7 linked regions of the Homo sapiens genome follow. The protein of the gene in region 1 interacts with the protein of each later gene in a biochemical or structural test. Each region holds a gene or a part of one and is shown in the gene's direction. Other genes may lie near its edges. The genes, in order: CTNNA2, CASK, TJP3, FRMPD2, SYNJ2BP, PTPN3 and DLG5.

Region 1 (4,191 bases):
ACAAAGGACAAAACCCAAATAGCACATTTTGGGTAAAGTAAACATCCCTTTTTCATCCGTTTTCTAAGATATAAGAGAGTACAAATGTAAGAATGATCATCTTGCCAAAGCTGGCACAGAATAGCTGTCTTATCTGCAAGATTTCATGCACTGCTTTCTAAATTGAAAAGAGGCTTTGACCAATTAGTGATTTTCTAAAAAATCCAAGATTCCAGTGGACTTCAGACATGGTCTGTGTTTGGTGTATACCTGTTCCTTTCTAAGTCCCAACCTACCTACACTCATTCCTTAAGACTTCAACATTCTTGTGCCCAAAGGTTCTATCTCTCTGCTCTGGAGATTTGCATTTTAACAGGAATCAGAGAATTGGAGCCCAGATATTCTGCACACAACCTGAACAAACACCCTAGGATGCTTTGGAGGGTTACAACAAACTTTCCCAGAGCATACAGCTGGACTTCACTTTGTAATAACTTAAGCAGTTATTGTATATACTACATCAGCATAAAAAATCCATAAAAGCATCTTTTATCTCCCCTTCTTTTTAGCATTAAGTACAGTAGTAGGCATATAGTAGGTCTTCGGCAGGTGCAGATTAGCAATAGAATAACTACCTATTCTCATTTATGTTTCGTATTGTATTTGTAAATATGGTAAATTGTTCTTTTCTTACAACTCTTTAAATTTGGTGAATATATAAGGAATAAGGAACGTCAAAAGAAGCAGTAACAGAGTGGCAATTGCACCATAGTATTCTACAGTTGGAAGACCATTTGCCCCATCATTGCCACTCTGGTTCTTGGACCTCTGAGAGTGCACCCCCAATGAAGCACACCATTTCCTGCAGCAGGTCATTCTACCTTATCATTGTGGAATGAACTTCTTTGCTTCAGGCAGAAAAGGCTCCCCAAAGGAAACCAGCCTTTGGTCAATGTCACCTTTGCTTCTAGACTTCACACAGTTAATGATCACATACCATCACGCTCTACCCTCCTCATTTGCTGGGAGTTTTCCAAGTTCTGTTTCTATCTTTCTGACTACCCTTTCTGTCTTCCTTTTTGATTCTGGTCCTTCTGTATAGGGGTCTTCTCTGGCCTGCTCTTCTGGCTCTATTCACTTTACTAGTATGTAATTCACTAGTTTATGTCCAAATACCCCTGACATTTACCAGATCCCTATAAAGACTGTTATAGCTCCTGAATTTTGGACGCATATTTCCATCTACCTCGGGGCATCTCTGCCCACATGTTTCCAGGCTCCTAAAACTTGGCTGGGGAAATGCTAAGCTCATGTTCTATGTGACGCCTTCCTTTTAGGAAATATCACTATTTTCCTCTTATATAGGCTCCTTCCAAACAGGTAAATACCTTTATAAGGATACTGTCAGTTATTTGTGACAAGTCTCATACACACATTAGGAATCCTTTTCTAGAACACTAGCATAAATTAACCTGTACTGAATATGCCTGTTGGGTGTTATGTGCCCAAGTTTCAAAAGGCATCCTGCCATGGGAATATCTGCTTCTCATGAGGAGGATTAACGTGTGTGTATACAAGCCACAGCTAATGCATAATTAAGATGTTGATTATTTATCATGTTTTAGCTCTAAAATCTTTATATAATTCCCCAAAGCATTACACTGAAATGTTCTTTCCTTAAAGGCTACGTATTTTAAAAATGCCAAAAAAGTGTCCTAATCTTATTTGAAAGCTCTTCCGTTGAGATAGCCTTTGCCAAGAACATATTCTTCAAATAAGATGTGCTCTTTTAGCTGAAGATTACATTTAGGACAAAATATCTAGAAAAAGTTAATACTTTGTCAAGGCAACTTTAGAATTTGAGTAACCAGTTTCTCCTCCTTGGGGACTCCTGTTCTTGCCTCAGATATTTCTGGTTTCAAAACAGGGTGCCAAGGCAGACCTCTCTTCTCTGCTGATTTTTGTGTGTGTGTGTGTGATACTTTCAGAATAAGATTATCCTGGACCCCATGACGTTCAGCGAGGCCAGGTTCCGGCCGTCCCTGGAGGAGAGGCTGGAGAGCATCATCAGCGGCGCAGCGCTGATGGCCGACTCCTCCTGCACGCGAGACGACCGGCGCGAGAGGATCGTGGCGGAGTGCAACGCCGTGCGGCAGGCGCTCCAGGACCTGCTCAGCGAGTACATGAATAATGTAAGTCTTGGGATCTCCATTCTCATGTCTTGGTGGATTCTGTTCTGCAATCGTGTTGCTCTTTTGGAAGCATAGATAGCAGGAAAAGAGAACAGACCAGGTGTTTACCAAAGAGAGTCAGGTGAAACCAAAGAACTGCTTTGGGAGAGCGCGTGTCGTGTGTGTTGTTTCTGAATCCATTTTTTGTTTGTTTGTTTTAATATGGAACAGGTGGATGGAGAATAAGCTCTTTCACTTTTTACTTGGCTGATTTCTTCTCGGTCATTTTAGTGGCTGCATTTTGAAGTAGGTAAGATTTCAATTGGTAAAGGTAGATGATTGATGGAAACAGCTGAGGATATAGTAAGTCCTCTGTTACAAAGAGCACTTTTAAACCTAAGGATAGCTGTAGATGCGAATCTTCACCCCTAAGAGGCATTAATAAATCTACTAGGTTTAAAAAACGTGTGGATAGGGTTGTTTAAGGAAAAGTTCTAAATGTAGTAAAATTTGGAGGTGTTTTATTGATTCATAGTCAGGAATTGCTTATAAGAGTGAGTCTCTTAAGTTTTCAAATAGGTATGTATGACTGGTATCTAATTGTATTTTGGCACATAATAGCCATCCTCTCCTATAGTTGTAAAATGTGACAGTTTCTGTGTACCTGTAACCTGCAAGAAGGTGATGAAACTCATATTCTTTGCCTTGAAAGGCACTAAATTATGGCTGTATTGATTTGCTACATTCATTCAGCAGAGGCGATGCTTGCAACAGTGGATGATCTGTGCTTCCCCCTTTCCTGGACTTTCGGGTTTGAGATAATTTAGCACAAATTGGGGAAAAATGTAGATAAAGTGAGGTCTCGATATTACATTTTGAAGGAATGCCCTGTATAGCTACCAGGTGGGTAACAGAGACACTGAAAATCTGCTCACAGCTACTGAAGTCCATGTTAGGTATTATTAGAACACCCCGAGGCAATGCTGAAACAAAGCAGCCATTCAGTGTCTCTCCCTCCAGCATCTTACCACTCCCATCATGAGTAAAAATATGTAGCTAACAGACATGCAAGCAAGGAATGAGTGTTGACAGTAGCAGTGCTCCTCCTGCTGACCCTCCAGAGAACTCACTGAGAAAGCAAAAAGATGTCAATGAGAAAACCTAACAAACTAAAAAAAACAAAATTTGTTTCCTTTCCATGAACCTTCAGATTCTTTGATTTTGGAAGACTTGGCCTTTTTCAGCACACAAAGAATAAAATGTGGATGCATCATGTGGCACCCAGCTGCTTATGAGGACGTCTCTATAGGACCCTGGATGACCAACACTTTCTGTAATTTTGATCCATGGTATTACGTAGGGTGCAGCTAGAAATGTTGACCCCACAGTCTCCCAGCTGAGTGAATCTTTTGAATAGCAGATGTGTCAACGAAGAATGCTTATGAAATCTGAGACGCTGTTTGTTTGTTCGTTGTTGTTGTTAACAAAATAGCAAAGGGCTAATTACATGGATGTGGAATTTGGTTTTACATTAAGGCACGCTAGTGGTTCTATTAATGAATAGTTACTGCCAAAGAAGGAAGTAGAAACTACAGAGATCACAGTGATGGTTAAGATCTCAATATAAATAAATCAGACAAAAAAGTATGTTCTTCTAAATAGAAATCACAGAACGTGACTAAATAAGAGTTGATCAACACGTGACATGTAATTTTCAGTTTGGTGTCTAGAATCCTGCCAACTAGAAGTTTTTCTTTCAGTGTAATCTCATGCAGATCAGCAGAGCTGATGGATTTTTGTATTTTATTGACTCCAGGCACTTTTTGTTTTCTGTTCGCAGCCTCGTGATGCAGGAATGTTTTGTGCTTTATTGAAATCTTAGTTTCTATTTTGACATGGTTACAGACAATACATCAATGGGTATAGTGCTTAAATTTCAAAATGCACAAGTTCTATTCACATTGAACCATCATGATCAAAGCCTGAAATAAAACACCTCCTACTTGACATTTATGTAAACTGTATAACATTTAGTTGGACT
Region 2 (4,191 bases), on another chromosome or scaffold:
TACCTTGCTTCTTGAGATTATTCTTGAATTATTACATTTTCTTAAACGTTTTCACATTTTAAATGTGGTAGGAGCACTGCATTTAAAGGAACTTTGACATAAGGTTGTTTAAAAAACTTCTATAACTTAAAGCTTACTTTATAAAGGGATTGACATTTATCCCTCTAATGTTAGGCATTTTGGATGTATTATTTAATCATACCCATTTTACAGAGAACACTGAGATTCAGAGGGGGTGATCAGTAATTCGCCTAAGATCACACAGATTCCAACGCGGTTCCATGGTTTTAAAGTCTGTTCATTTCATGCTGCATTCTGCTGCTAATTCAAGTTGTGAAAATACTGTGTTGGATTTTCTTAAAGACACGTCTTCATTTTCAGAGTTTCTATACTGCAAATTTTAGTTGTTTGACTTTCTGGTTAAATTTCTTATTTCTTCAGTAGAGGTTCCATATACTATTCATTCTTTCATCTGTTTCTTTTTTATTTTTGTCTTTCTCTTTAATGAAACATCAGCATTTGTTACCAAACTAACTGGTAAATCTAGCAATGGAAATATAGACTCTTGGCCATCTGTCCAAAATATAATTTGTTTTGGAACTTTCTCTACTTCTTTTACTCTCCAAATTTTTTCTTCCATTTCCCTTGCCCCAACAGACAGGATAGTTGATTAATTACCCCTAACTTGCCAAACCAGAAGTAATAAGGTTTCAGAGGTAGATGTTTGTTGGAAGTGGGGTGGAGTGGTTTCCAAAGGATAGTTATTCCTTTATCCTGTGATAAAAATACGGAGATTGTTCTCTCTGATTCTGAAAACCGTGTAGTGAGCTGCAGCCGCTGAGTCTGTGAGCTTCTAGCTGTTTGCCAGCACTGTACACCTTAAATAATCAAGAGACTGAGTTAACTATTGCAGAGCAGGTACCGGACCCCAGCCAACAAGCTGATGGGATGTGCTGTTCTCACATTTTTTGGTTTTATTTTTTAGTTGCAACTGACAGTGAAGATTCTAGAAGCACCAAATATGGCTCTGGATTTATGCTGTGGGATTTAAGATGCTACAGAACTTGCTCTCCTTCCTTTCTGTCCTGGAGCCACTATGGTATTGGTTGTAGAGCCCAAGTCAGTATAGAGTCTCTGACTTCTACCCTGGGAAAATTTCATTTCCGAAGCTAGTTTGTTTTGAAGTTAATGTTTATTTCCAACATTGAGATTTAATAATTTTGTGTTACTTTTCTTTATTAATTAGTTTTTATACAGTAAATTATAAAAGTAATGATGCACGTAGTAAATTTTATTTTCTTTTTTTGAGATGGAGTCTCGCTCTGTCTCCCAGGCTGGAGTGCAGTGGCACGATCTTGGCTCACTACAACCTCCGCCTCCTGGGTTCAAGTGATTCTCTTGCCTCAGCCTCCCAACAAGCTGGGATTACAAGCATGCACCACCGCGCCTGGCTAATTTGTGTGTGCGTGTGTGTGTGTGTGTGTGTGTGTGTTTTGAGACGGAGTCTCACTCTGTCGCCCAGGCTGGAGTGCAATGGCGCGATCTCGGCTTACTGCAAGCTCCGCCTCCCAGGTTCACGCCATTCTCCTGCCTCAGCCTCCCGAGTAGCTGGGACTACAGACGCCCGGCTAATTTTTTTTTTTTTTTTTGTATTTCTAGTAGAGATGGGGTTTCACCATGTAAGCCAGGATGGTCTTGATCTCCTGACCTCGTGATCCACCCGCCTTGGCCTCCCAAAGTGCTGGGATTACAGGCGTGAGCCACCGCGTCCAGCCTAGTTTTTTATTTTTAGTAGAGACGGGGTTTCACCAGGCTGGTCTCGAACTCCTGACGTCAGGTGATCCACCTGCCTTGGTCTCCCAAAGTGCTGGGATTACAGGCGTGAGCCACTGTGCCCAGCCATACAATTTAAAATATAGGTGATACAAAGATAAGTAGTGAGTCTGTCTCAATTCTCCTACCATCCATATCCCCATTCTCTAGAGGTAACCATTGTTCAGTTTCTTCTCCATCTTTCTGGAAGCTTTTTGTTTAAAAGTGAGATATTTGTATACTATGCTGAAATATTGATTTTTCATGAATAATAGTATATACTTGATGATCTTGTCATATCCATCAATGTATCTGTCTGTCTCTATCTCCTCTTTAGCTGCTGCCCAGTATTCTGTCATATGGATTGTTACTTTGGCTTTGGATTGAGTGCAAGCCAATTGTAATTTTACATTGCTTGAAATGCTGAGCTGGAATTTGGGTGAGAGGTATGGAATGGCAGTGAAGATTTGGGAGTCATCTGTGTGGAAGTAAAACTGAGTGAACAAGTTCTTGGGGGTTGACTGCTCTAGGGCTCGTGGTTTGGAGTATAACTCATAGAGTTAGAAGAATCAGGATAATGGGCTGCACAGAAGTTTAAAAGAGGGGGGAGGATCAATAATGTAAAATGCCAATATACTCTGAGGACTAAGAACACATGTGGCTATAACAGAGAAACAATTTAAAGCACTTATCAAAATGAATATTATGTTTAATAGTCAATTCATGATGTGTCTGAAAAGCTAGGTCTGGCTTCTTTTCTGTGGATACTAGTAATTTTATACTATCTCTCTGTAAATCTATCTCAGAACCAACATATTTAGGGTAAAAACAAAGTAGATTTCTTTTTCACTCTAATTGTGTTTTGCAGATTTCTGATGACTGGCTTTTAGGTAAAATCATTTGGTTTTCCTAAGATTATGTCCTTTTCATTCCCGAGCTTGTGCATGACTGTCAATTAAATGGAAGCCTTTCATGAAGTGACAAAGTAAGTTTTAGATACTTTACATTTACTTTAAGTTCTTGGTATGTGTCAAACCACTGTTATTGTCTTATATCTTTCTACTATAGGAAACTGAATTCTTTCTAGCCTCAAGGATTTTTGTCCACGTTGGATGAATGTAGTACTGTCCTCCTCTTTCACATTTCTTCTCCCATCACCTCCTAACTAAATTTGTTCATTGGCTATTTTTGGTTGTCCACATCCATTCACAATAAGAAACGATTGCTTCGTTGTACATAAGCCAGTTTTTTGGTATCTAAGTGCGTGCTATTTCACTTCAGCTTCTTGTATTCTATTTATTACTGGGCTGTTGTACATTGTTTTTTCTCCCAATCTTTGTGATTTCTTTTAATATACTTTCTTTCCTTTTTGCTTTGTAATCATTGTTTTGAGTATTTGAATCATTTGCAGGTAAGAATGTGGATTGTTCTGTCTCTCATGTAGTTTAATAATATCCAAAATATACTATGTTCAGTCTGTATTTCAGGCTTTTAACACTTAAGTTAGAGTATTTTGGTATATTTAAATCTAGGATAGAAGTACACTGTATTACCATTCAACTACATGCAGATTTTAATGTTTTCTTAAATTAAAGGATGATGATATTCATTCAGTTACAGAGGTCTCTCTCTCTAGTCCTTCCATGGTGTGCAGATTACCATTATACTACTGCTATTTCATAGATTCTAATTTGTGTTTTTAGAAAACATCATCAATTCTTGGCCTTCTTTCTTACCCTTGGTATGTGATTTCCCCTAAAGGTATGGAATGCGGTTGCTCTGTGGCTTGTTAGGCAGCCCCCTTCTGATCTGGTAACCTTTGGGCACAGTGTGGCTATTTTCTCCTTATTTATAAAAGGAATGATAGCTGCTTCACAAACCATTTGTGTGGATTAGTGAATTGTAAAGTGCAGCATAAGTATTTTTTATTTCTAGAATGTCTCTGAGATACTCAAATTACTTTTGGCAGTTATGTACGTAAGTTTCAACAATTTCCAAATGTGCACATTCTCAGTGCTAAACACAGGCTCTATTACATAAATAATATGGTGAAATGAACATTCTTTTCTACCATGTGTGTAAAATTGTTAGTGGTGCTAACTTTTATTCATTGTTCATTTATGTATTCATTTCTAGCTATGAGGTCCTGGGCAAGTTAGTTAGCCTCTCTGACCCTCAGTTTCTTTATCTGTAAAATGTGGTTAATGGTATATACTTTGTAAGGTTGTTGTGAGGATTGAATAGCATGATCTATGTGAAATGTCTAAAGGTTGTTATTTTAATTGCCATTGTCATTATTATTATTTTTTAAATTTTATTATTATTATACTTTAAGTTTTAGGGTACATGTGCACAACGTGCAGGTTTGTTACAAATGTA
Region 3 (4,191 bases), on another chromosome or scaffold:
TAATCCACAGCCAAATGTCGGTTTCTAGTATCCCCATGGGGTTGTCTGTTTCTAATACCCTCTAGCTTTGATGTGCATCAGAGACTCATGTGGGCAGCTGACTCCTGGACCTACCCTAGGTGACTGGATGCTAATGACCCAGTCACCAGGTTTAGGGGAGCTGCCCTGCCCTAAAGGATGGTATCTTTCTGGATTCTTCCCCTGAAAGTCTGTTTCTAGTGACTCCTAGTGTTTGATTTCCAAATTGCTTTCAGCTGATTATTTCCAGTGTCTTCAAAAAGTTATCTGTTTCTTTTTTTTTTTTTCAGACAGAGTCTCGCTCTGTCACCCAGGCTGGAGTGCAGTGGCGCAATCTCGGCTCACTGCAACCTCCGCCTCCCAGGTTCAGGTGATTCTCCTGCCTTAGCCTCCCGAGTAGCTGGGATTACAGGTGCCCGCCACCACACCCAGCTAATGTTTGTATTTTTAGAAAAGACGGGTTTCTCCATGTTGGCCAGGCTGGTCTCGAACTCCTGACCTCAGGTGATCCCCCCCGCTCGGCCTCCCAACGTGCTGGGATTACAGGCGTGCACCACCACACCTTGCTAATTTTTTGTATTTTTAGTAGAGACGGGGTTTCTCCATCTTGGTCAGGCTGGTCTCGAACTCCCGACCTCAGGTGATCCATCCGCCTCGGCCTCCCAAAGTGCTGGGATTACAGGCATGAGCCACCACACCCGGCCGACATTAAGTTCTTTCTAGGAATTGTGTGTTTCTAATCTACCTCTAGATGACTGTTTTCTTTTCTCTTTTCTTTTCTCTTCTCTTTTTTCTTTTCTTTTCTTTCTTTTTGATATGGAGTGTCGCTCTGTCACCCAGGCTGGAGTGCAGTGGCGGGATCTTGGCTCACTGCAACCTCCACCTCCCGGGTTCAAGTGATTCTCCTGTCTCAGTCTCCTGAGTAGCTGGGACCACAGGCGCCCACCACCACGCCCTGCTAATTTTTGTATTTTTAGTAGAGACAGGGTTTCACCATGATGGCCAGGCTGGTCTTGAACTCCTGACCTCAACTGATCTGTCTGCCTCTGCCTCCCAAAGTGCTGGCATTACAGGCGTGAGCCACCGCGCCCCACTCTAGATATCTGTTTCTAGTTATCTCCCAGAAGATTGTGTGTTTCTAGTATCTTTTAAGTATCTGATACTCCCTCTTCTCCAGTTAGAGTTGTTTATAATGTCACCCTCACATCTGTTCCTAGTATCCCCTGAGACATTTCCACTTTTGGTAAGAAAGGAGAGTCAACCTGTTTCTCATTTTCCCCAGTGTCTCCCACCCCTCTTAGAACATTTTCTGTTTCTAGAATTCGGTGCTCAGTTCTTGGTGTGGTCTCCACTCACAGCAGGAATCCAATTCAACACTTTCCTTAGGGAGTGGCTGTTTTTAGCAACCTCTGGGGGAATTGTCTGTTTCAAGTTCCCCCACACCAGGCTGTTTCTACTGTCTCCCATCTCTCATTAACTCACTTCCGCTCTTTCATTCCTGGTCCCTTTCAGATCAACGGGGTGTCTAGCCAGAACCTGTCACTGAACGACACCCGGCGACTGATTGAGAAGTCAGAAGGGAAGCTAAGCCTGCTGGTGCTGAGAGATCGTGGGCAGTTCCTGGTGAACATTCCGCCTGCTGTCAGTGACAGCGACAGCTCGCCATTGGAGGGTGAGGACCTAGAGGTTAGGACCTGGGAGGGGGTTGAATGGATGGCAGGGAAGGTGGGAAGCCCCAGGCAGGGCCAAGGAATCAATGAGCCTGGTCCCTAGAGGCTCAGAGAGTGACAGGAACTTGCTGAAGGCCACACAGCAAGTCAAGAGTTCAGGGGGGCGATCTCGGCTCACTGGGTTCAAGCGATTCTCTGCCTCCTGGGTTCGAGCGATTCTCGTGCCTTGGCCTCCTGAGTAGCTGGGATTATAGGCGTGAGCCACCGTGCCCAGCTCCAGAGCCGAATCTTCTAACTGAGCTTCTGACTTTGGTCTAGGGCCCTTTGTTTAGAGGGGTGTTGATATACCCCTCTGTAAAATGGGTCCAGTCCAGAAGGCGTGACCATGGCTGATGAGATGTCCTCTCCCCCTGCAGACATCTCGGACCTCGCCTCGGAGCTATCGCAGGCACCACCATCCCACATCCCACCACCACCCCGGCATGCTCAGCGGAGCCCCGAGGCCAGCCAGACCGACTCTCCCGTGTAAGTATCACCCATCGGCCAGAATGGTGATAGGGAGGGAGAGGGAGGTGGGAGGGAGAGGGGAACGCGGGCGTAGCTTTCCAACTGGGGGTAACCTTGAGGACGCAGTCCTGTATTTCTAGCATGTGCCTCAAAATACCTCCAGCCTCTACCCATTACCCAGTTCCAAAGCCGTGTCCGCATTTGTAGGTGTTGGTTACAGCAGCACCCCACTTCTTAGTATCAAACTCTGCCTTAGGCCAGGTGCGGTGGCTCACGCCTGTAATCTCAGCACTTTGGGAGGCCGAGGAGGGTGGATCATCTGAGGTTAGGAGTTCGAGAACAGCCTGGCCAACGTGGTGAAACCCTGTCTCTACTAAGATACCAAAATTAGCCCGGCGTGGTGCCGGGTGCCTGTAAGCTCAGCTACTTGGGAGGCTGAGGCAGGAGAATCACTTGAACCCAGGAAATGGAGGTTGCAGTGAGCCGAGATCGTGTCATTACACTGCAGCCTAGGCAACCAGAGCAAAACTCTGTCTTAAAAAAAAAAATTTCTTTTTCCTCTATTTATTTATTTGTTTTGAGACTGAGTCATGTGAGACTGGCTAATTTTCATATTTTTGGTAGAGATGGGGTCTGTATTGCCCAGCTATGTTGCCCAGGCTGGTCTTGAACTCCTGGGCTCAAGCATTTGGCCTGCCTCAGCCTCCCAAAGTGCTGGTATTACAGGCGTGAGCCACCACGCCCAGCCCAGATAAATTAAAATTATTTTTATTTTGTTTATTTATTTATTTATTTTTTTGGAGACAAGGTCTCACTCTGTCGCCCAGGCTGGAGTGCAGTGGCATGATCTTGGCTCACTGCAACCTCTGCCTCCCGGGTTCAAGCAATTCTCCTGCCTTAGCCTCCTGAGTAGCTGGGATTACAGGCGCCCACCATCATGCCCGGCTAATTTTTGTATTTTTGGAGAGACGGGGTTTAACCTCGTTGGCCAGGCTGGTCTTGAAATCCTGACCTCAGGTGATCTGCCCACCTCGACCTCCCAAAATGCTAGGATTACAGGCATGAACCACCGTGCCCGGCCTAAAATTCTTTTTAAAATGGCCCCTTGAAATCCATCCCTGCCTCACTCCCAATCTGTTCCCCACCAGGGAGAGTCCCCGGCTTCGGCGGGAAAGTTCAGTAGATTCCAGAACCATCTCGGAACCAGATGAGCAACGGTCAGGTGGGTGGTGACTCTGAGCACCCCTGTCCCTGACATTTCTGATCCCTGACAGCAAGGCTGTGCCAGGCAGAGCTGGGGGAGGTTGGCCTGAGCCTAAGTGGTGAGACATGGTTTCCTGAGAAGGACTCGAGGTGGGTGACAGTCCTTCCAGGATGAGGACATAAAGCAAAGGTTTGGAGGCTGGACTGAGCCAGTGTGCTTGGGAAAGAGACTGGCTTTTCCCTTTCAGAGTTGCCCAGGGAAAGCAGCTATGACATCTACAGAGTGCCCAGCAGTCAGAGCATGGAGGATCGTGGGTATGTACCCCAGAAGAAAGCAAACCCGCTCAAAACTCCTACATCCCAGGCTGCCTCCCTCATCAGCGCAATCCTGCCTGCTTGTATCCATTGTGTTGAGTGGGACCATTAAGTGGGGGTTTTGGGGAAACTGAGGCCTGGAGGGGGTGGGGGCTTTCCCAAGGACAATGCTGAGCCCTCCCTTTGTCCGCCCACTCTGCTCTGACCCCATCTCTGCCTCCCCTTGCAGGTACAGCCCCGACACGCGTGTGGTCCGCTTCCTCAAGGGCAAGAGCATCGGGCTGCGGCTGGCAGGGGGCAATGACGTGGGCATCTTCGTGTCCGGGGTGCAGGCGGGCAGCCCGGCCGACGGGCAGGGCATCCAGGAGGGAGATCAGATTCTGCAGGTGCTCCGGGGGCGGCTGGCCAGCCCCACTGATCATGGGCGTGCAGTGTGCTAGGTCCTGCCCTTGTCTGTTCCAGTCCTCCCCTTGGGTCC
Region 4 (4,191 bases), on another chromosome or scaffold:
GGTCTGAAACCCCAGTTTTGCTGGCTTGTCTCTAGCCTATTCCCTGCCCTCTCCATATACTCAGGATTCATAATATGAATAGCTAGGATTTATTGAAAAACTGCCATATGCCAGACACAATAACTCATGGTATAAACGAGTAAAGAGAGGAAGTAACTTGCCCACGGTGAGGTGGGATCAATCCAGCTCTGACCTCGGAGCCTGCTCTTCCAGCCACTATGCTTTTCTATTCTCATTCCCCTCCTGAATTGTATTCACCCTGAGATATCAGTGTTTTTAGCTGCTTTCCTGGCAGAAGTCTGCTTTCGAGGCTGATTCCTATTCCTCAGGCTTCCTTTTACTGGTCGCTGGCAGCTCTACTGTTAACTGCCCTCCCTTTTTTTTTCTTGCCTTGGCTGTAAGCCTCCTTATTCCTGTATTTGCTTGAGCTATCATAGCCCAACATTGTTGGAAATAGAGTAGGTAGTGAAGGGAGGCAGGAAGGAGATGTGTAGGATGGTGCACAGGAACCAGTTCCAGGAGGGCTGGTGCCAGGCAGGAGGCAGATCAAGGCTGAGCTGTCAGAACTCACTCTTCAATAGATTCAAGATGGGTTAAACAGTGTCTGGCTGGAGAGTAAATGTATTAGACATTTTAAAAAAGTGCCATCTAGGAATTTCTTTTGTTTCTTCTATCAGTATCATTTTTGTATGATGCCAGTCCAGAGTGCAGGCAGCATCTGAAGTATTCACTTGTTAATTTACTGAGTCATTCAGCCAGTGGGGGAAGAAGGAGCTCCAGATGCGAGTGTCCCCACAGAGCCTGCAGAAGGACAGGAGGCAAGGGGGTTGTGGTGCGTCTAAGGCTGGAAAAAGGCCATGGGGGAAAGAGGAAGCTGCTAGAGATCAGTCCAAAGCGGTGGGCCTGAGGTCCTGCAAATCTTGCTCAGGATCTGAGCTGATCCTTTGGAGAATAGAAAGTGGCTGAAAGTTTTCACGAGGTGTGACATGGTCAGATTTGTGTTTTAGGAAGAGGACTCTGCAAGACAGAGAATGGATCAGGGCAGGGGCAAGGTATGGTTGTAGGAAACCATTTTGTAGAATTTACATTTCAGTGGTCATTCAGGGGAGGGTGCTGGTGGCTTAGACCAGGTCAGTGGTGGTGGGGTTGGAGAGAAACAGGCGGATTTTAGAGAGATTTTGGAGATGGTGATTAACGGGCTGGGAAGTTGAGGGATGGGAAGGAGACAAAAATGTCGTCTGAATGTTTGGCTTGAGGGGTTAGGTGGTGGGAATGCCATTTGCTGTATTCAAATAAGAGAGGTTGAAAGAGGAGGAGGTGGGGGGAAGGTGAATTCAGCTCTCTACATCTAAGGGGGTTGTCTAAAGGACATCCTGGGATCACCAAGCAGGAGCTCAAGAAACGGGTCTGAGCTTAAGACATGGCTGTGGAGGGGATGGACTGATGGTTGGTAACTTTGGAGCATGTAGAGTGATTTGAAGAGGGAGCCAGGGCAGAGAGAAACCCAAAGACCACTGACATTTGGCATTGCCTTTATTCATTGTTACAAATAATACCATGGCAAATATCTTTGAATATACATCTTTGTCAATTATGTTCTTGGCATCAATTCCCAGAAGAGGAAGACCCTGATGGCAGGAATGGACATCCCTTGGCTTTTGATACAGATTGCCAAACTGCTTTACAAATCAGCTGTCGCAAATTGGCCACACATAAGTAAGGTCTCTGAGAGGAACAGTGTCATTGCCACCTCATGGGCACTGAGCGCTCATCATCGAAGCCCACTTGAGGGATGAAAATGGGCCTCGAGACCACGTCCACTAGCAGCTCCTTGGATTATAGGCAGGAGTGGACAGTTTTTCCATATTGTTTAATAAGGAATCACCGTTTCTTTTATGACTTTTCTTAGTCTCACTTTCTCAATTACCTACTGCTGTTGGGCCCATAAGATTTTTCTCTCTGATTCTTTGCACAGAAATAGTCACTTTCGGTTTGACCTTCATCCCTTATCCCAGCTGGCTGTATAGCTCTTTGTAGATATCACTGTGGGAAGCAACTTCCTGACTCAGGGCCTGAGGAGGGGTATGTGGTAAATAAAGCCCAGGAGAAGAGCTTGAGACCAGAGTCCTCTCCCTGAAACCACTCGGAGTGGGATTCTGGACAAGCCTTCACCCTCACACCTTGGCTGTCTCCCATTTCCCATCTGTGCTACAGCAGGTCTCCTGGGTCTGTCAAGTGTGAGTTAAGGACCCCCTCTTCACTAACCAGTATTTTTAATGGTCTGCTCTGGATGGATTAATTTGACTGAATGAAGCTGCTTCACTTCTAGAGGAAAATTTTTAAACAAAGCATTCACCCAGTGGGGTTTGTGACAGGGCAAGCCACTTCTCAACCTGCATTAGGCTGGGAACCCACGGACGGCCTGGCCCTGCCTGAGTCCCATCAGCCAGAGGTTTATCCCTCAATCATCACTGCAGGAGGAGAGAAGGCTATGCTCTCCGTGAAGGGGGAACTCTCAGGCCTGTTCAGCTTCTGCATCCCTCTGAAGGCTGCATTTCAGTGACGCTGGCCACCCTTGTACTAGGTACCACCTGCCCCACCAGCAACATCCACATGCAACACGCCTCTGTGCATCCTATTTCCTATATGCTTAGAAATGTTCCCTAGGAGGCAGAGAATTGGCATTGCTGGGACTTGGCAAATACATGTTCTCAATTTTGATAGATGGCTCTGAAAAATCTATACCAATTTAATTCCCATGTTAATGGGTGTTATGAGAGGGCCTGGTCTGCAGCCCCCACCTTGCTAACATCAAATATTTAAATTTTTGACCCTCTTGATAAATTCTCATTGCTGTTTTGTTTTCCCTGATTTACTAGAAACACAGCAAATCTTTTCAAATATTTATTGAGTAGTTGTATTTTTTCACCTGTTTATTTCTTAACTTTTAAATTAAAGAGTTGTTTTTTTCTAATTGATGAGTAAATAGTAACCCTTTTGCCATTATATATATTTTCTCCTAATCTGTTGCATATTTTTGTTTACATTTAATTTTCATATATGGTCAGATAAAAAGTTGCAAAGAAGTTGCAAAGAGCACAGAGAAGTCCCTATACTCTTCCTCCAGTGTCCCCCAGTGATTATATCTTACCTAACTACAGCACAATGGCAAACCCAGACATTTGACATTGGTACAATATGTGTGTAAAGTACTATGCCATTGTAATACTTGTGTAGATTTATGTAACCACTACCACAATCAAGATACAAAACTATTCTATCGCCACAAAGATCTCCCCCAGCTCCCATTCTACTCCCTACCACCCTGCTTCTACTATCTCTGAGATCAGTCTCACAAGCTGTGACCTTTTGAGACTGGTTTTTCTCATTCAGCCTAATGCCCTTGAGATCTAATCAAGCTGTTGCACGTATCAATAGTTTGCTCTTTATTGCTGAGTAGTATTCCATGGTATGAATATACCACAATTTGTTTAACCATTCACCAAATGAAAGACATTTTGACTTAACAGTTTTTGGCTATCACAAATAAAGCTGCTATTACAAATAAAACACACACGTTCACATGCAGCTTTGTGTGTGGATATTCATTTTTTTTCCTCTGGGATAAGTGCACAGAAGCACAATTGCTCAGTTGTATAGTAAGAGTATGTTTAGTTTTTCTCTTTTTTAAAAAGAAACTGACAAACTCTTTTCTGAAGTGGCTGTACCACTTACATTCCCACCATCAACTTAGAAGAGATCCAGTTTCTCTGTATCCTCATAAGCATTTGGTATTGTCACTTTATTTTTTTTTCCTGTCATATAGGTGGGGAGGGATATCTCATTATAGACTTCATTTGCCTTCCCCTTATGGCCAGTGATGTTGAACATCTTGTCATGTGCTTATCTGCGATGTGTGTATCTTCAGTGAAATGTCTTTCCATGCCATTTGCTCATTTTTCTAATTGGATTGTTTGCTTTCTGCTGTTAAGTTTTGAAACTTCTTTGTAGACATCCTACATGTGAGTACTCCATATTAAGCATGGCACCTAAACCTACTTTCTGCCTCTATGGATTTGTTTATTCTGGATATTTCATATAAATGGAATTACACAATGTGTAGGCTTTTACATCTGGCTTCTTTCACTTTAGCATAACGTGTTCAAGGTTCATGCATGCTGTAGAATGTAT
Region 5 (4,191 bases), on another chromosome or scaffold:
ATTCATCTTGCATAACTAAAATTATATGCATTTAAAATAGTTAAACTCATAAAAACAAATATTAGAATGGTGGTTTCCAAGGACTTAGGGAAGAGGAACTGGGGAGTTGCTAATCAACGAGTAGTCAGTTTTTTCTACAGTGAATAAAAGTTGTCAATTACTATGCCCAAGTATAGATTGAGTAGCCCAAATCCAAAAATCTGAAATTTGAAATGCTTCCAACTCCAAAATTTTTTAAGGGCCAACATGACGTTCAAAGGAAATGCTCATTGAAGCATTGCAGATTTCAGATTTTTGGATTAGGGATATTCAACTGGTAAGTTTAATTCAAATATTCCAAAATCCCCCAAATTCAAAATTCAAAACACATTTGGTCCTAAGCATTTTGGATAAGGGATACTCAACCTATATATGGTTGTACTTGAAGTAGCGAAGGAAGGGAGAGTAAATTTGGTGATTTAGTCCTACCATGAAATAGCAGTTACCTTTCTGGTTCTGAGGTTTCTCTGCCAATACCTACACCACTGCCTCCACCACCAAAATGGAAAAAAAAAAAAAAAAAAAGAAACTCTCAAGAGATTTTTCTAAAGCACTATCATACATAAATTCTCCAGAAGCTTGGGAGAAGGAAAGTGTGGAAGGGAAGGTATGGTTAGAAATCTCTCACACTAAATTAGGAACAGTTCATTTGATAATTGGTAAAAATGCATAGCTTCTTTTGATGAACACAGCTAACCCTGCTGTAGTAATATCAGGAATGTCAGGAATTGGGTCCTTTGAATACCATCAACAGGATCAAAACTAAATGTGAGTAGAAGAACTTACATCTAGGCTGGGCATGGTGGCTCACACCTGTAATCCTAGAACTTTGGGAGGCCAAGGCAATAGTGATTGCTTGAGGCCAGGAGCTCATAACCAGCCTGGGCAACTGAGCTATGAACTCCTGAGTAGCTGGGATTACAGGCGCCCACCACTATGCCCACTAGCAAGACTCTGAAAAAAAAAAAAAAAGAAAAAGAAGAACGAACTTAGAGTAATCACCATTATTCTTTAAGTTCTATATAGATCTTTCTTTATATATTGAACAAAACAGGTGGATCACTGTGTTTATATTTTCAGTCGTGCCTCATTTGAGTGAGCAACTCAATACTCTTGATATGGCTGACCTTGTTCATGACCATTCACCAGCTCCATCACAGGCTGACTCGCCAGCATCTCCTCTCCATCAGCCTTTCCTCCCCAGTAGGCTTTCCCTCCCTTTCTCTTCATCTTCTCTAATCTCTTTCTTTCTTCTTCACCCCCATCTTTTTACTCCTCCATGATTTTCTCAGGGCTGGGCTTCAACATCGTCGGTGGGACAGATCAGCAGTATGTCTCCAACGACAGTGGCATCTACGTCAGCCGCATCAAAGAAAATGGGGCTGCGGCCCTGGATGGGCGGCTCCAGGAGGGTGATAAGATCCTTTCGGTGAGAATGGGCTTCGGCCTCCTTCACTGTCCTTTGCTCCCTAAGCCCTAGGTCCTACCCCTCCCTATCCCTTTTCCTTGAAAAGATTTGGATCTGGAAATATACAGGTTGTAGAGTTGAATGGGAACAACTTTGATCAGTCATTCTTTCCAACCCTATCATTGAGCATGGAGGGCAACATTATGCTCACCTGATAGATGAGAATGTGAAGCCCAGAATGTGAAGTTACTTGTTCAAAAAGCACAAGGCAGGAAGCAGCGAGGGACTCATATGGGGAAAAGAGATTTAAAATCCACAAATTTTGTCTTTCATCCATTACTTTATCACCTCCTTTTGTTGATTAAAACACTAATGTGTATCTTCCTTTGGGGGAATGTCAGCCCTTATAATTGGATTTAACATCACAAAACAGAAAGAAGGAAGGTTGGAGTTAAGTGTCCTTTTCAGACTCAGAGCCCTTTTTCACCCATTATTAACATGAAAATTTGGAATGCAGTTGATTTGGGTACCTGTCCGCTGTGTTCCCATTTCATCCTGCTAATGTCTCTACGAAGACATACTACATGGTAATTATTAATCTTACTATTTTCCAGAATATTTCCTCAAGGGCAGTGAAAAGATCCTTTTTTTTTTTTTTTTGAGATAGATTCTTGCTCTGTCACCCAGGCTGGAGTGCAGGGTCGTAATCTTGGCTCACCGCAACCTCTGCCTCCCGGGTTCAAGCGATTCTCCTGCCTCAGCCTCCTGAGTAGTTGGGACTACAGGCCCCTGCCACTACGCCCAGCTAATTTTTTATATTTTTAGTATAGACAGGGTTTCACCATGTTGGCTAGGCTGGTCTCGAACTCCTGACCTCATGATTCGCCCACCTCAGCCTCCCAAAGTGCTGGGATTACAGGCGTGAGCCACCGGGCCCGGCCTAAGATCTTTTTTTAACCTTTTGAATCATAGCACAGTGCTTAATAATGTTTAAGAAATGAACAAGTTAAGAAATTCAGGCAAACCTAAAAAGGTTGACTGATAAATATGGGCCCACAGACCTCAGGTCTTAAAATAAATTAGAACAAGCATACAGTCAAAACTATTAAAATGCAAAATATAACTCTGGCCCTATTGTTCATTTCTCTACCTTACCATGGGCCACAGTAATCCTATGATACTATCAGTTTGCTGGGGGATAAGGGAGTATAGTTGGAGATAATTATTCTGTAGAATTTCTTTTTTTATTAATCTTCAGGACTAGTGAAAAATGGCCAGCTTATTACTTGTATGGAAACAGTGCAGATGATTGGTATAAAGAATGGAAAAATGCTGAGGGGGTGAGATATTATCTAGAATATTCTTGGGAGAGCTGGCTTCAAAGGGCTAGACTTAAATAAAAGGAAATTGAAATAGGATAGGGCTTCGGAGCCCTATCCTCTCCAGATGGGCCATAAGCCCATGGTCCGAAGAGGAGAAAACTATTCCCTGTTTTCTTTTAGAACTGAATAGGGCAAGATGGCCACGTTGGGAAAACGTTGAAATAAATGAATGAAGTACAGACAGGAGAAGTCTTGATTGGCAGAATTAAGTATTGGTCTCAGATACATGATTTTGAACCTACCTCTATAATGAGTTAGCTTCATCCCTTAAAAATTTTTTGCTATATAGTTTCATTTGAATTTTCCCTTTCACATTACTTCTCATGCAGTTCAGGTGATTAGTGATTAAAGGTCATATGTGTGAAATCTCTTGCTCTTCTTAGTTGTCAGCTTATTGAACACCTCTCTGCCATGAAGCCCATTTGGTAGCAGAACCTGAAGGCAGAGATACAAAGGAAAAGAGAGAGAGAACATCCACCTTTTCTTCATTTGGCATCTGAGTATTTGAGTGATCAGGCTCAGCAGTATGGTTCTGAATGCCTCTTCAGGAAGACTGTGACTCCACTTAGTCCCCCAAAAAGAAAGAAAATCAGAACAAGTAGCTATTAGAGCCACCTAAATTAGCTCAAGAATGTCTAAGCATGTGTCCTCGCTGATCCATAATATAAATATAGTATCAAGCACTGCAGTATTTCAGTCCTTCTCATTGACTATTCTGCCTCTCTTCAGTCCATTAAGCTTCTCCTAGACCCTGTTTATTAATCAGTGAGATGGAGACAGTGATAATATACCTGTCTTCTCAAAAGGATAGTGAAAAGTTTAGAAGCAGATTATTTCCTTTAGCTCCCAAGGAAAGACATTCATCCAATATGAATCAACTTGGCAGTGGTACTGTAAGGAATGCTGAGAGTGGGTTGTTAAAATAAAGGTGTAGCATTTAGTTAGAATCTATGCAGCTTAATATTTTGACACATAAATTACATTATCCTCAGAACACTGGAACCTGGGCTCTGTGGATGAAGAATAGTATAGGAGTTAAGAAGAGAAAGAAGAGAGCTGTATTATTTTAAAAGCTTTGGTTAAACGTAGATTATTGCAAAATGAGAATGGTGAGAAGTATTTGAGCACTAAATGTCAGGTAACATGCTAAGAACTTGAAATTTATTTTGTTTAATATTATAGTAATCCTATGAGGTGGGCATGATTATTGTGCCCAAGCCATTTGCCCAAGGTCACACAATTAGTAAGCAGCAAGGGACTCAAACTGGTTTGTCTGAATTTGTAGCCTTTTTTTAAACCACTATGTTATACTGTTATACTGCCTCCTAAAAGGTAAATGAGGAGCTAGGATTAGTTATCCTA
Region 6 (4,191 bases), on another chromosome or scaffold:
TAGATAGATAGATAGATAGATAGATAGATTTTCCTAGCTGGAGAAGCTCAGTCTAAATGCTTTTATCCCCCCTGTATACTTTGCTACAATATGTTTCTTAGGTATTTGCTAAGATAAATAACTGTATCCTGCAGAGCATCTTTCAGTGGCTCTGCTTTGTAAAACACAATCCAGACTCCTTACCCCAACACAAGGTGCCCACAACCAGGTCCCAGCCCACCTGTGCAGCCCCTCCTCCTCCACATGCCTAGGTGTTGAGTCCAGGAGCAGGCTCCCTGACCCCGTTTCTCAAAATGGGCTCTTACTGAGGCTTCCACACTTCCACTTACAAGAAGGGCTGTCCCGCAGGGACTTTTGCTCCTTCCCACCTCCCCCAGACCGCCAGTTTCTCCCTCTGTCATGTCTCCATGACACTTTGCCCACCCCTCTCTGGGAGTGCCCCCTCCCCGCATCATATAGGAACTAGGGCTTCACAGGTGTACCTGGCCTGTGGCCCAGAGTTGGCGCTCAGGGAATATTTACAAATGCTGCAAAAGACCCACCGGTACAGGGTGTGGTAGGCAGCATTTCCTGGAGCTACAGGACTTGACAGCATTTTTTTCTTTTCCAGAGCCAGTACAAGTTTGTGTGTGAAGCGATTCTTCGTGTGTATGAAGAAGGTTTAGTCCAAATGCTGGATCCTAGTTAAGACAACTGTGAAAAAGTTCATTCCTCTTTCCCAAGGGCATCCTCCTTGAAAGAGGAGGACAGACCTCTCTGGAAGCAGCAAGAGGAACCAGTAGCTGTGGGAAAGGAATGGGCACCTCTGAACCCAGGCACTTTAAACTTCTATAGAAAAGATATCGTGTACATAGGAACTGGTGTAGATAAGCATGCAATTATGGCATCATTTAGGCCTGTATTTCTATGGAAAGATACAAAAAGGATCTCAGTTTGGGGCCTGTCCTAATGCCTTCTTCCCTAACATCACCACACACACCCCTGTCGGCATCCTGGAGCAATTGAGACCGGACACCCACAGAGCTGTTGTCCTCCCAGCAACAAGATGGTGTGGTTATCTTGGGTCATTTGGATGTTTTGTTTGTTTCTGTGTGTCAGACTGTAAGGGCTGAGCTTTCTGTGCTTCTAGGTGGAGCTGGAACAATTCAGATTCACCCGCCCTGATGCTAAGGAAACCCTGACGTATGTACTAGATGGCAGGGCACTGGGGGTCAGGCTGAAGGCTGAGCAACACCTCTCTGCCCTCCCTCCCTTTGTCCCATCTCCCAGCGACTTCCAATATTCATGTTTCTGAGAATTGTGTCCCTCTTCAGGTTCCCTCTTGGTGCCTAACCTGGATTAGTAATGTGCATTCAGGTGAATTTTCAGCTGAGGCTCTGAGAACTGGTACTCTCAGTGTGTTCTGGTCATCTTGTGGCTTAGTTGTAGAAGCAGGTGTGTCTCTTGCCTCTGCTTGCCTCCTACTGCACACTCAGCACCCAGGACTGGAATCACCGACTACTGAATCTCCTACATGTATTGCTGCTACTTCAAGCTCCTCCACTTGAAACCTTATGATTTTCCCAAGGGGAGATGGGACAGTGTCATCTAAATATTCCGAATGTTTGGCCTTCTGAGAAAAGAGCTTCTAGTAATTGAACCATGGGAAACCCAGCTTCTGGAGGGTTGGCCGTGGGGCTGTGTACATGTGTGTGCCCAGGGGTGAGTGTTTCTCAGGATTCCTAACGATTCAAATTACCGTTGAGTATATATAAAGAATGAGTCTCTGTATGGAAGAACAAATGTGTGCATTCACCCCCAGTCACAATGGTCTCCATTGCATTTCAAAGGAGAGGATCAGACTATCTGAATATAAACACAATCTGATGTTAATTTATTCTAAGAACACCATCATTTTGATTGTCCTAAAGAATTCTGCCTTTGTGAATACCGTGTTAAATTTTTTTAAATTTGTGACAGGATTGTAGCAAATTATTATTTAAGGAAAATAAATTGTGTAAACATTTAATGTGGTATTTTTGAACAGCGGTTTTTATGTACTCAGAAGAGGAAGTAAAGCCAGGTTCTTAATGGTATTTATAGAAAAGATGTTTTCATATTATAATGCACATAAATGAAGCCATTTTGATATTCAGCAAATTCGGTGCCAATTGAATAGTTTGCTGGTAGCAAGACGGATGAAGACCTATATGGGAGATTCTTTATCTCTAGAGCTAGCATATTTACTTGCATACTTTGTTTCTTTTCCACATGGATATTTTACTGCTAAATGGCAGAGGTGGGAGGGAGATGTCACACAGTACCATAACCCCATATTGAAAACAAGAAACCACCAGAAAGTTTGCAGCTAAGGGGCAGGGGATTCAGTTCCTACGCCCACTCAGCACTAACTACTTGCGGGCCTGGTTGCTTAGAAGCTCTACCTCTCTTTCATTATCTGTAAAATAGAAACAATACTTAGGACTTTAGTTGGAACATGAGGATTGAATAAGATCACGCTATTCATGTGACTTTTTATCGGCTAGAACAGCAACAGACACTGCTGTGGGTGAGTTACTTAGAAAAGTTTAGTTATCAGTGATTAGCCCAAAAACACATCAGTCAAAAATAGAATCCACTGGATTTTTGTCTCTCTTTTTAGAGACAGGGTCTCACTGTCGCCCAGGCTGGAGTACAGTGGCATGATCATTGTTCACTGCAGCCTCAAATTCCTGGGCTCAAGCAATCCTCGCACCTCAGCCTCCTGAGTAGCCGGGACTATAGGCACATGCCACCTCACCTGGCTTGTGTGTGTGTGTGTGTGTGTGTGTGTGTGTGTGTGTGTGTGTGTGTGTGTGTGTGTGTGTGTAGAGACAGGATCTTGATGTGTTGCCTAGGCTGGTCTCAAACTCCTGGCCTCAAGTGATCTTCCCACCTCAGCCTCCAAAACTGTTGGGATTATAGGCGTGAGCCACTGTGCCCAGCCTAACTGGGTTTTTATGAGAGGAAAATAGAAAATGCTCTTCTAGAAGAGAGAGAACAAGAGCACAAAATAATCTGGACTCACAAAAATTCAGCAAGCTCCAAGAAAGGGGGATGGAGGGAACGCTGGCAAAAATTTAAATGCCATTAGGATATTTAGCAAGTTATTACTGTTTGGTAAAAATGCATCATCACCCTGTGTGCAAAATGCTTGCAAAGTAGTCTAAATGTCTTTGGAGATGGGTGTTTTACTGCTTTTTTCCAAAAACAAATTGTTTATTATGGTTGCAGAAATGCAGCCATTACGGTCACATAAATTTCTAAAAAGCCTACCAAAGGTTGCAAGCAGTCTTCTGCCACTGGGCAGGCCAGCAGTTCAGACCCAGCGAGGTTGCCAGGAACAAATCCAGGAAATACTGGGAAGAACAAGACAAGAGAATTACCTAAAAGAGCAAACAATTCAAGTAAATCCTGTAGCTATTACCACTTAAAATCCGTAGCTCAAGATTCCTGTTTCACCACCTTATACACTTAAGCAATTATACTTAAGCCTTTTTTTAGTCCTAAGTGAAGAACTACATCAGAATCAGGATAAGTATTTTGCCTGGGAAATTTGGCTGCATATGAATGGAGAAGACATTTACATCCTATGTTCTGGCACTTTCTGAAAGATCTAATTAAACATGTTGATGTGCCAATTTAATCAAGATGAGAGATCCCTGCTGGTGTCACCCTCTAGAACCTGCACTTGGTGTTTTGACTTTCCAGAAGAAAAAAATGCAACTTTGGTTAGGGGGCAGTGGTTGGATCACACAGTTGTCTTTCGTTTCCTACCACAGTAATTCATATTTAAATATGCTTTTAGATTAGTGTGGATACTATTGCTGCTGTGTTGCTACCTGACCTTTTTCTGGGGGGGGTACCTCAGAAATGAGCATTTGAGGGCAAGCGAAAAAGCCCTCTTCATCCTCCAGAGGCAACAAAGAGGCAGCAGAAATGGGGAAAGATTGTGAGAGGCAGGGCTTGGGTCTAGACCTGGACTTAGGCAAGATATGTTGCCCTCAACCCTGAGTTTTCTTATATGTAAAAAGGGAAGGTTGGGCTGGACTAGATGAGGTCAAGATTTGCCATTCTGGGAGGCTGATATTCCAGAGAATCAAAATTAATCCTAAACCAAAGCTTTATGGCTGCTACAGAGACATGTCACATTTCTGAGACTTGTCACCAAGA
Region 7 (4,191 bases), on another chromosome or scaffold:
CACTTCTAAAAAACACACACACAGGGACAGGGCAAGAGGAGAGGAGAGACTTTACTTACTCCCTGAGTTTGCCCACAGGTTGCTCTTCATGGAGCCTGCTGCTGCAGCTGGCACTGTGCTTGTGTTCTCCTGAGCCTTCTGCCTCCTGGTCCCTGTGCCTGCTCTGCAGTCACTCCTTGTTCTGCATATGCGTACAGATCCCTCCAGGCCAAGCCTCTCATGGACCCTTCCTCCCAAGCCTGCAGTCATCTTGTGCTCTGCCCTCCCCATCATCTCCATACTCATCCTCTTGCCCTGCTCTTTCTGGAGACTCTCATCCCACTTCCCTCCTGGGCCTGCCCAAGTGGTCTTTTCACCCTGTCATCCAGCCACAGTGTCTACTGAAGCCCGCCGCTCCTGGAATTGCCAGGCAGCTCTTGCGTGCTCTCTTGCTGTTCATGTGTTGCTCTGTTGTGACTCTAGTTAAAGTGTGTGCTTTTTAATGGCAGGAACTCTGTGTTCTATTCTTTATTATGTTTCTGAGATTCCAGCACAGTGACTTATACCAGGGAGACGCCAGGAAGATCTTGCTGGGTTTTAGACTGTGTCTCCCTGCAAGGACTTTATTCATTTGGTGCAAGGGGAGGTTTACTGCATGTATCAACTAGGATATTGGTTTGACTGCTTTAACTGAAACCAAATAACAGTGGCTTAAGCATAATGGGCAGTTTATTTCTCTGTCATGTACAAGTCTGAGCTGTGGTTGATGTGGGAGAGGCATTGCGTTCTGAGGATCATCCAGGACCCAGGTCCCTTCCATCTTGTGCCTCTGCCATTTCTTAAGGGTTATCCTCAACTGCATGGCCAGAGCTGGCTCACAGCACTCACCTGTTCTAGCCGTGCAGATTGGGGAGGCCTCACCTGTCACTGGGCAGGTCTGGGTTACACTGACCACACCTTCCTGGGGAGTGGGAGCTTTACCTGCCAAACCCCAGAGGCTGCCTTGCCAGAGAGCAGAGGAGAATGGAGATGGGGCAGGGGAAGCAGGCGTCGACCCACGAGGAAAAATCAGAGCAGAAGGAAGCTCTGGGATGAGTGGTTGAGACCAGCTGCCTCTGGTGTTCACAGAGGGCATGGGGGGTGCTCATGCTGGACTCCAGGGGTGACGATGCCCGGTTGTGCCTGGGACACGAGATTTTCAGTGCTGAAGCTGGGGGAGTCCCAGGCAAACCAGAGTGGGCGAGGTCAGGGAGCGGGGTTCCCCAGCCCCACTCAGGTCCTCCACTCCAAGCTGGGTCCGTGACGCTGCTGCTCTCTCTCCCTCAGATTCGGTGAGCCTGGCCTATCAGCGGGTCCAGAAGGTGGACTGCACCGCTCTGAGGCCTGTCCTGATTCTGGGGCCTTTGCTGGACGTGGTGAAGGAGATGCTGGTGAATGAGGCTCCTGGCAAGTTCTGCAGATGTCCCCTTGGTAAGGGGCACGGGGCACCCTCTGTGCCTACTGGGCTCTTTGTCTCTATGTCCCTGTCCACCTGCCTGCCCAGCTGTGCACAGTGGGTGGCAGTACCGGGGGGCAGATTTCACAGTGTTCCAGAAGCCTGCTGACATGGGTCAGATTCATGCATGGCAGGACTGGGTTACTGACAGCTGCTGAGCAGTGTTCTTCCCCTGCTCCCTCTGCTGGGGCTCAGCAGGGCCTGGGGCTCCCTGATTCCTGTGTCTGTGCATTGCAGAGGTGATGAAGGCCTCCCAGCAGGCCATTGAGCGGGGTGTCAAAGATTGCCTGTTTGTCGACTATAAGCGGAGAAGCGGCCATTTCGATGTGACCACTGTGGCGTCAATAAAGGAGATCACAGAAAAGGTACCCAGGGCTTCAGTCTGAGGATTAGGCATCCAGTATTAGACCTCCTGTGCACAGGTCTAGGCCCCTGGTCCGTGATCCTCTGCCCCAGCGGCTCAGACCTTCAGTGAGCCCACCGTGTTGTGTTAGTCTGAGTTCACCTGTGCCTGGGCTTGCCCTCATGGCTGCTGTGTGTTTCTGCAAGCACATCCCTTGGTGGGGATGGAGGAGTTCCCCTGTGTATGTGCCGCCCCATCTTCCTCTCTGGCAGGTGCGGGGGGTCTCATCTCTGATGAGAGTATTGAGCTCTGCGGAAAGGCCTCTCGCAGGGCATTCCGGAACGGGGTCCCCAAATGCATGTGCCGAACAATTTCACATGCACCTTCTGGGGACAGGAACGTGCCTTCCCTCAGGGTCCCTGCCCCTAAAAGGGCTATGACTCTCGGTGCCTTCGAACATCCTAGGCAGCACGAGGGCGGGGACGTCTGTGGGGAGTGCTGGTGGGGCAAACACTCGGAGTCCAAGGACACAGCCGCTCCTTGGGCTCCATTTCTCCAGGCTGCTCAGCTCGCTCGCTGGGCTTTGCTTCCCTTCTCTGTTAGATGAAGGTGTTGGCTTCTCACTGCTGAAAGTGGGCAAACTCTACTTGGGGGAATGCCCCAGTGGAGCATCTGGGGGTCGGGAGTGCACGGGCCTGCACTCCACCTGGATGCCTGGGACGACAGACATGACAGACATATTTCAGTCTCAGCCACACAAAGGCTCACCAGACTCTGGCTCTTCATTCGCTCAGTCTGGCAAAAATAAGGCTTCAGAGGCCAGGGTGGGGCAGGGCTTTCAGAAGGTCCCTGTATCTGGGCAAAGGCGGGAAAGGAAGTTTGGAGTTGGGCTGGCCAGCACCCCTAGCCCCCTAAGCCCTGGCTCCCAGCCTTGGCCTTCCTCACAGCAAGTGGGGTTTGTTGGGAGTTTCGTGGGTATGGTTTCCCCACGGTGTACTGTGTGGCTTTACTGCCTTGTTTGTGGGTAGAGCCCTGTGAGGTGAGGTGGGTCCTGCTGGTGGCAGGACAGGGGGCTGGCTGCCCCTCACTGCCCGCCAGGGCTCACTCTGCACCCCCCACCCCAGAACCGACACTGCCTCCTGGACATTGCTCCGCACGCTATTGAGCGGCTCCACCACATGCACATCTACCCCATTGTCATCTTCATCCACTACAAGAGCGCCAAGCACATCAAGTAGGTAACTGGCCCCCTGGGCTCCGCTGGGGCCTTGTCACAGGTGGGGCTGGGAGCCCAAGTAGGGAGCAGGGTGTGTTGGGGTGGGGGGTTGAGGAATGAGAGATGGGCCTATGGGTCTTGAAATAGGCAGTACGTGTAGAAAATGACCCTTCCCTGTCGGCCCTGTCCCCTACTCAGAGGTGGTGTCAGCCAAGCGCAGCCCCTTCCTCGCGCCCCTCCGCCATTTGGGTGCTGCCACTGTTTTTTGGGCATGGCCAGCTTGGTCTGCACAGCTCCCCTCTCCTGCCCCAGCCCCCTTTCCTCGCTACGTGCTGCTTAGGAGCAGGGGAGCCAGTGGCCTGGGCACAGTCCCACTCAGCCCCGAGCTGGCTCATGACTCAGGAGCCGTTGCCTTCGCTGAGCTTCGGCTCCTGTGCTGGTTGGGCCAAGGGCTCACCAAGGCCCTGCTCCATTTTGCCTTTCTGTGCTGCTGAGCTTCTGGGACCTGCGCTAGGGGCTGCTGGTGCATCTGTTCCAAGTGTGTGTGCTGGGGGGCCCTCCTTCCCCCATCTGCCCAGAGCTCCCCCGACAGCCTACAGGCTGTTGCTGTGCTTTATGTGGGGAGCACATGGGGCCTCCCTCCACAGCCTACCCCTGCCTTGATGGGGCCCCTGTTAGCCTGGACAGAGGAAGGAAAGAGGGCCTGGAGGAGGCTCAGTGCTCAGCCTGGTGTCTGGCTGTCCCCACAGGGAGCAGAGAGACCCCATCTACCTGAGGGACAAGGTGACTCAGAGGCATTCCAAAGAGCAGTTTGAGGCGGCGCAGAAGCTTGAGCAGGAGTACAGCAGGTACTTCACAGGTAGGTGTGCGTGGGCCTGGAGTGGGGAGCAGGCAGCAGGGAAGGAAGCAGAGGCTTCCTAAGGCTGTTTTCTTAGCCGTGGAGAAGCCCGCACTTTCTACATGCTCCCAAGTGCTGTCATGAGCACGTTCCTGACAAGTCAGGTGTTCAGATTGCAGTCCCTGGCCAACGTCAGGATTCTTACAGGTTGAATGTTAAGCTCACCGATCTTGGCCTCAGGTCCTGCCTGGCTTGCCTGCTCATTTTCACACGTGCAGTGGTGGGTCTGTCTCATAGCACAGGTGCAGTTTAGTGCAGCC

What was found.
Region 2: the proteins of CTNNA2 (region 1) and CASK interact in a test that uses a peptide from one of them, tested with the Homo sapiens proteins (one large-scale study listed by IntAct).
Region 3: the proteins of CTNNA2 (region 1) and TJP3 interact in a test that uses a peptide from one of them, tested with the Homo sapiens proteins (one large-scale study listed by IntAct).
Region 4: the proteins of CTNNA2 (region 1) and FRMPD2 interact in a test that uses a peptide from one of them, tested with the Homo sapiens proteins (one large-scale study listed by IntAct).
Region 5: the proteins of CTNNA2 (region 1) and SYNJ2BP interact in a test that uses a peptide from one of them, tested with the Homo sapiens proteins (one large-scale study listed by IntAct).
Region 6: the proteins of CTNNA2 (region 1) and PTPN3 interact in a test that uses a peptide from one of them, tested with the Homo sapiens proteins (one large-scale study listed by IntAct).
Region 7: the proteins of CTNNA2 (region 1) and DLG5 interact in a test that uses a peptide from one of them, tested with the Homo sapiens proteins (one large-scale study listed by IntAct).

The regions. Positions count from the first base shown.
Region 1 is NC_000002.12:79,907,627-79,911,817, forward strand, and holds part of CTNNA2 (catenin alpha-2), read left to right. Parts: intron 1-1,967; coding exon 1,968-2,171; intron 2,172-4,191. UniProt on the Homo sapiens protein: May function as a linker between cadherin adhesion receptors and the cytoskeleton to regulate cell-cell adhesion and differentiation in the nervous system. Required for proper regulation of cortical neuronal migration and neurite growth.
Region 2 is NC_000023.11:41,913,292-41,917,482, reverse strand, and holds part of CASK (peripheral plasma membrane protein CASK), read left to right. Parts: intron 1-4,191. UniProt on the Homo sapiens protein: Multidomain scaffolding Mg(2+)-independent protein kinase that catalyzes the phosphotransfer from ATP to proteins such as NRXN1, and plays a role in synaptic transmembrane protein anchoring and ion channel trafficking.
Region 3 is NC_000019.10:3,732,223-3,736,413, forward strand, and holds part of TJP3 (tight junction protein ZO-3), read left to right. Parts: intron 1-1,530; coding exon 1,531-1,690; intron 1,691-2,104; coding exon 2,105-2,213; intron 2,214-3,343; coding exon 3,344-3,417; intron 3,418-3,646; coding exon 3,647-3,713; intron 3,714-3,942; coding exon 3,943-4,099; intron 4,100-4,191. UniProt on the Homo sapiens protein: TJP1, TJP2, and TJP3 are closely related scaffolding proteins that link tight junction (TJ) transmembrane proteins such as claudins, junctional adhesion molecules, and occludin to the actin cytoskeleton.
Region 4 is NC_000010.11:48,267,831-48,272,021, reverse strand, and holds part of FRMPD2 (FERM and PDZ domain-containing protein 2), read left to right. Parts: intron 1-4,191.
Region 5 is NC_000014.9:70,385,747-70,389,937, reverse strand, and holds part of SYNJ2BP (synaptojanin-2-binding protein), read left to right. Parts: intron 1-1,331; coding exon 1,332-1,468; intron 1,469-4,191. Other genes in the region: SYNJ2BP-COX16 protein, read left to right, coding at 1,332-1,468. UniProt on the Homo sapiens protein: Regulates endocytosis of activin type 2 receptor kinases through the Ral/RALBP1-dependent pathway and may be involved in suppression of activin-induced signal transduction.
Region 6 is NC_000009.12:109,376,053-109,380,243, reverse strand, and holds part of PTPN3 (tyrosine-protein phosphatase non-receptor type 3), read left to right. Parts: intron 1-610; coding exon 611-688; 3' UTR 689-4,191.
Region 7 is NC_000010.11:77,793,709-77,797,899, reverse strand, and holds part of DLG5 (disks large homolog 5), read left to right. Parts: intron 1-1,305; coding exon 1,306-1,449; intron 1,450-1,711; coding exon 1,712-1,839; intron 1,840-2,941; coding exon 2,942-3,051; intron 3,052-3,782; coding exon 3,783-3,892; intron 3,893-4,191. UniProt on the Homo sapiens protein: Acts as a regulator of the Hippo signaling pathway.